Linked DNA regions of Homo sapiens: region 2 is linked to region 1. The links come from fine-mapping of genetic effects on gene expression. A gene starts in region 1. The other region holds a variant in brackets. All regions are shown on one strand. Distances are between the middles of the regions. Region 1 holds the start of VCPKMT (valosin containing protein lysine methyltransferase). Region 2 has its middle 6.4 kb from the start of SOS2.

What was found.
Region 2: its variant is fine-mapped to the expression of VCPKMT in whole blood (TOPMed, PIP above 0.99).

The regions. Positions count from the first base shown.
Region 1 is chr14:50,114,961-50,117,877 of GRCh38, forward strand. It overlaps VCPKMT (valosin containing protein lysine methyltransferase), which reads right to left and starts at 1,612. Exons shown (of 6, transcript NM_024558.3): 1 at 1,327-1,612; 2 at 1,109-1,219; 3 at 879-951. The coding sequence starts at 1,592. It overlaps SOS2 (SOS Ras/Rho guanine nucleotide exchange factor 2), which reads right to left. Exons shown (of 23, transcript NM_006939.4): 23 at 2,170-2,917. RefSeq lists an enhancer at 1,549-1,608.
Region 2 is chr14:50,236,556-50,239,472 of GRCh38, forward strand. No RefSeq gene overlaps it. Among named protein-coding and RNA genes, the nearest start is that of SOS2, 6.4 kb to the left of the region's middle. RefSeq lists silencers at 1,003-1,203, 1,009-1,148. The variant C/T (reference allele first, on the strand shown) is at 1,678.

The DNA.
Region 1 (2,917 bases):
CATTTTGGAGTTCTCATGGGAAACAAATGGAATCAACCTTACTCTTAAAAGTTTAATTTTATTTAATCTAATTTGGGATTTAAATAATCAACGATTTCCCTACAAAAGTTAAATCTGACCCTAACTTGGTTCAATGCTAATTATTTTTAAAATAATCGATGCCCACAACACTATACAAACTGATGTTTTTTTTTTTTTTTTTTTTTTTTGAGACAGAGTTTTGCTCTTGTTGCCCAGGCTGGAATGCAATGGCATGATTTCGGCTCACTGCAACCTCCGCCTCCCAGGTTCAAGCGATTCTCCTGCCTCAGACTCCCAAATAGCTAGGATTACAGACATGCACCACCACGCCTGGCTAATTTTGTATTTTTAGTAGAGACAGGGTTTTGCCATGTAGGTCAGGCTGGTCTCGAACTCCCGACCTCAGGTGAGCCACCTGCCTTGACCTCCCAAGTGTTGGGATTACAGGCGTGAGCCACCGCGCCCGGCCCAAACTGGTATTTAAAGAAAAGAACAATGAATTATTTATAACTTAATTCTCAATGTCATGGTTAACATGTTCCGTGGGAACAACCAAGGGAAAAAGAGAGGATTTTGGCTTTTCATAACATCCAATTGGCAAAATCCTTTAAAATTTTTACAGAAGCCTCTAGTAAAATGCATATAACACTTTTCTCAACATGCTTCACCAGGTCGGTATGATAATGATGAGCGTATATACATATGGTCCCTGGTGACTTTTATCTTCTCTTTACTGCATCAACTATAAGGCAAATCCCGGATTCAAAGATGTTAAAATGTGAAGAAACGTGTGCTTTAGAATTCATGGAATAAGGTTCATCTTCTAAGTGAAGAGACTTCGCTCACTGGATACTTACCTCTTCATAGTATATGCAGTCGGCCATCAGTATGAAGTCGGGTGGAGAAGGAAAGCCTTCTATTTCTTCCCCCCTTAAAAATGCCAAACAAATATTTCAATTGTTTTAATAATTCAAAATACTCTTGTTTTATAAAGAACCGGAAAGTCCCCTTCCATCCTTTTAATGAAACGCAATTCAAAACAAACTACAAATCAATATCTTAAAACAAGCTGAAAGGCCATACAAACCATTTCAGTACCTTGGCTTGAACAGAACCAGTGACAAGATGCTTGTTCATATTAATATTCATCTTCAGCAAGTCTTGCAATTCCTCAAGATCGGTGACTACAACATCAGCCCTATAAAATAACGTCGACTGAGGTGTAGGCACAGGGGGGAAAGCCTGTAATCCGGATTTCCCCAGCAAGAAGGCGCCCCCACATCCCGCCCGCCCGCCAGCTCTTACCCGAGGGTAGCAGCCATGAGCCCCACGGCCCCGGTGCCCGAACCCAGCTCCAGCACCGACCGCCGGCTCAGCGCGTGGGCCCCGTCGCCAGAAAACTCGGGCGTTTCCAGGTATTTAGAAAGGACAATGGCAGCGTCCCACACAACGCAACCCACGCCACCGGAGCTATACTGCTGTAGTCGTAGCACTGTACCATCCCGCTTCTCCAAAACTCGCACAAAGCTCCGCAGTGGGTCCTCCAGCGAGGACTCCAGCGTATCCGCCATTGCGCCCGGCAACAGAAAGCGGCGCGCGCAGGGACGTCACATCAACGCGCACCGCCCCGCCCTGCGGCTCCGCCCCCTGCCCGCCGCTGAGTTGGCGACGCAGCGCGCGCGAGTTAACAAAGCCCGGAAGGCAGCGTTACCTGGGCGGGGCCGAGCGTGGGGCCCCTGCTTACCCGACGCGCTTGGCAGCCTCCCTCTACCCTAAATCACACGTTTGGCTTAACGAAGAGGCCGTTTAAATCACTTTCCCAGACAAAACTATTATAATCTGCTCTTTAAAAAACAAAGCCAACCTCAGAGTTTACCAAGTTGGACACTTGATTTACATAGTAGTTACAAGGCTTAAATGCAATCAGCTTCCAAGATCCTACCAAAGATGGCTATAATCTTACAATCTTCCTTTTCAAGTTCCTAGTATGCTCCTAGTTTTTTGTATGAATTCATAAAAGTGGTTGCTAGAAGCCTGCAGCTCACATTTAACAGTGAAGAAAAAATTGTGTGTGTGTGTGTGTGTGTCTATAGGACTCAACAATCTCCCCCTTTGTTCCTTATAATGAAAACACATATTTTAAAAGTCTTTTAAAAATTAAGACTGGGGTGATTTATTAATCTTGTTAAGAACTCTGATACAAAGCACAGTAAAAGGCCACAAACCAGTAAATAAACAACGTGGCTTTTGGCTACTTTACAACTGCTGCTACAGCACTATCAGCAAAACACTCTATCACTTTGAACGAAGGCATCCAAATGGCAAATAAAAGCTTTACTCACTTATCTGATTAAAATGTTTAATAAAGCTTTAAGTATTTGCTGGTTTAAATATTACCAATCTAAAAAATATATTTAAAAAAAATTTCAGTTAACACGAGATTTATAGAGAAAGTTACTAGGTCTTGAAGGCAAGGCAGTTGGTTCCTATGCCATAGAATTTTTTTTGAATTTATGAATTAGTAAAGTAGCAGATTGTATTATAGGCCTCAAGTCACTTAAATTTATATAGGTTATTAGCAGTATCTTTAAATATACAATATAAACAAAACTGTACATACATGGCATATTAACTGTTTTCCATAACAATAGGCAATTCATTAGCTAAAGACGTCATAGTCTGCAAAAACAAAAGGCACATCTGAATGAGATACATGCCCTTTTTCCCTCCATCATTGGGTTATGTAGTCTTTGTTTACATTTTGACAAAATAATAAACACTTACAGTGCCATTCTATTATTTTCATCCTACTTTTCATTTTTGTCTTCAGCAGCAAATACCGGCATTTAAGACATGGCATTAAAGAGTTTAAGAACAGTTGGTGTTATTCACAATT
Region 2 (2,917 bases), 120 kb after region 1:
TCGCGCCACTGCACTCCAGCCTGGGCAAAAAAGGGAGACCATCTCAAAAAAATAAAAATAAAACAAAAAAATGCAAGTATTAAACACACTGATACTATAAGAGGGAGGGCATATGTATACATAACAAAAAGCTTAATCACAAATTTGTACTGAAATATGCTAACTATCATGCTAATATATTTTTTTTTTTTTTCGGGACAGAGTCCCACTCTGTCACCCAGGCTGGAGTGCAGTGGTGCGATCTTGGCTCACTGCAACCTCTGCCTCCCAGGTTCAAGCAATTCTCCTGCCTCAGCCTCCCGAGTAGCTGGGATTACAGGCACACACCACCAAGACCGGCTAATTTTTTTGTATTTTTAGTAGAGACGGGGTTTAGTCATGTTGGCCAGGCTGGTCTCGAACTCCTGACCTCAGGTGATCCGCCTTCTTCAGCCTCCCAAAGTGCTGGGATTATAGGCGAGAGCCACTGCACCCAGCCAATAATTTGACAGATTGTAATTTTGCTTCCCTTTTTAAATTAATTTTTTTTAAGAGACAGGGTCTCGCTCTGTCACCCAGGCTGGAGTGCGGTAGCGTGATCATACTAGCTCCCTGCAGCCTTGAACTCCTAGGCTCAAGGGGTCCTCCTGCCTCAGCCTCCCAGGTAGCTAGGACTACAGGTATGCACCACCAAGCCCAGCTAATTTATTTTGTAATTTGTATTTTTTTTTTTTTTTAAGAGATGGGGGTCTTGTTCTGTTGCCCAGGCTGGTCTTGAACTCCTGGTCTTAAGCGATCCTCCTGCCTCGGCCTTCCAATGTACTGGGACTGCATGAACCACTGCATGAACCACTGCACCCGTTACAGGCATGAACCACTGCACCTGGCCTTTACCTTTTTTTTAATTTAGAAAGGATTTGGGGAAAATGTGAATGATCCAAGCCCAATTAAAATGTTAAAAGACAGTTAGAAATTTACCACTAATATTCTCCCACTTGAAAACATTTTCAAGAAGGACTTACTCAACATTTCTTCCATTTACTCTCTCATACTTCCTCAATTTATTTAAAGCTACAAGCGCTACCAGTCAATAGCAAAGCAAAGCAACGCCACAGGAAACAATAAATGTTGTTATCACTCACTTTCATGGGTTGCTGCCATAGCCAGCTCGGTCCTCTCACAGCCACCTGCCTGAAAGAAGTTGAAGCAGGCCCTCAGACAGGCCTTTGTCCTCTGACCCTTATGGGAGGCTCATGCCCAACCCCCTGTAAGAGACAGCATACCTAAAAGGTCTTCCCAAGAGGAACTATAATTTTGTATGAAACTCCAAAAGATCGATTTAAAAGTATGCCTCCCCACTCCCCACAAAAAAGGCATTGTATGTTTATATGTTACATACAACGTGCTATTGAGCAAAAAGAGTGTTTTCTGGTTCTCCAAGGTATGAAGATGCCACCGAGGTCATCCAAATATTGCCACCACCACCAGGTGGAAAGTCATCGTACGTGGGGGAAGTAGCTGTTCCAAACACCATCTCCTATAATCAAGGTGAAAGGGCAAAGCATTGCTGGGCGTGGTGGCTCACGCCTGTAATCCCAGCACTTTGGGAGGCCGAGGCGGTCGAATCACAAAGTCAGGAGATCGAGACAATCCTGGCCACGGTGAAACCCTGTCTCTACTGAAAACACAAAAAATTAG[C/T]CTGGCGTGGTGGCAGGTGCCTGTAGTCCCAGCTACTCGGGAGGCTGAGGCAGGAGAATGGTGTGAACCCCGGAGGCGGAGCTTGCAGTGAGCCAAGATCGTGGCACTGCACTCCAGTCTGGGGGAGCAAGACTCCGTCTCAAAAAAAAAAAAAAAAAAAAGCTATCTGAAAGGTTGAGATGGGGATCCCTTGAGCCCAAGAGTTCAAGGCTGCAGGGAGCTATGATTGCACCACTGCATTCCAGCCTGGGTAACAGTGAGACCCTGTCTAATAATAATAATAATAATACATTCGTTCAGAGAATACAGAATCATTGGAAAGCTAATGAAGTAGATTCTGGTTGAGCTTTCAGGAACAAGTCCCAAAGCCACATCACAGAACCAGGCCACTAAGAGAGTAATTTCAAAATAATTATGATCCACAGAGAACTGCCACACCATGAGTCTAGCCATTGCTGCTGCCACATAAAACTAGTGACTGAAAAAAAGCATCATTCAAATTTTTGTTATTTATGTTATCGCAATAGAATCCTTCAAATTCCTGACAGTTAATGAAGTTGAGCTGTCAACAACGAACGTATTCGTAATCTGTTCAGTATAGCTCCCAGTCTATCAGATACACTAGAGTGAGATATAGAAGGCAGAAGTGAGCCCAGGCACGGTGGCTCACGCCTGTAATCCCAGCACTTTGGGAGGCTGAGGTGGATGGATCACCTGAGGTTAGGAGTTCAAGACCAGCCTGGCCAACATGGCGAAACTCTGCCTACTAAAAGTACAAAAATTAGCCGGGCGTGGTGATGGGCGCCTGTAATCCCAGCGACTCAGGAGGCTGAGGCAGGAGAATAGCTTGAACCCAGGAGGTGGAGGTTGCAGTGAGCCGAGATCACACCACTGCAACCCAGCCTGGGTGACAAGAGCGAGACTCCCTCTCAAAAAAAAAAAAAAAAAAAAAAAAGAAGAAGGCAGAAGTGAGTTGGAAGCCGCAACTCTGATATTTCTGTTAGCAAGCACCATTCAGTCACTAGTTTTATGTGGCAGCAGCAATGGCTAGACTCATGGTGTGGCAGTTCTCTGTGGATCATAATTGTTTTGAAATTACTCTCTTAGTGGCCTGGTTCTGTGGTGTGGCTTTGGGACTTGTTCCTGAAAGCTCAACCAGAATCTACTTCATTAGCCTTCCAATGATTCTGTATTCTCTGAATGAATGTATTATTATTATCATTAGACAGGGTCTCACTGT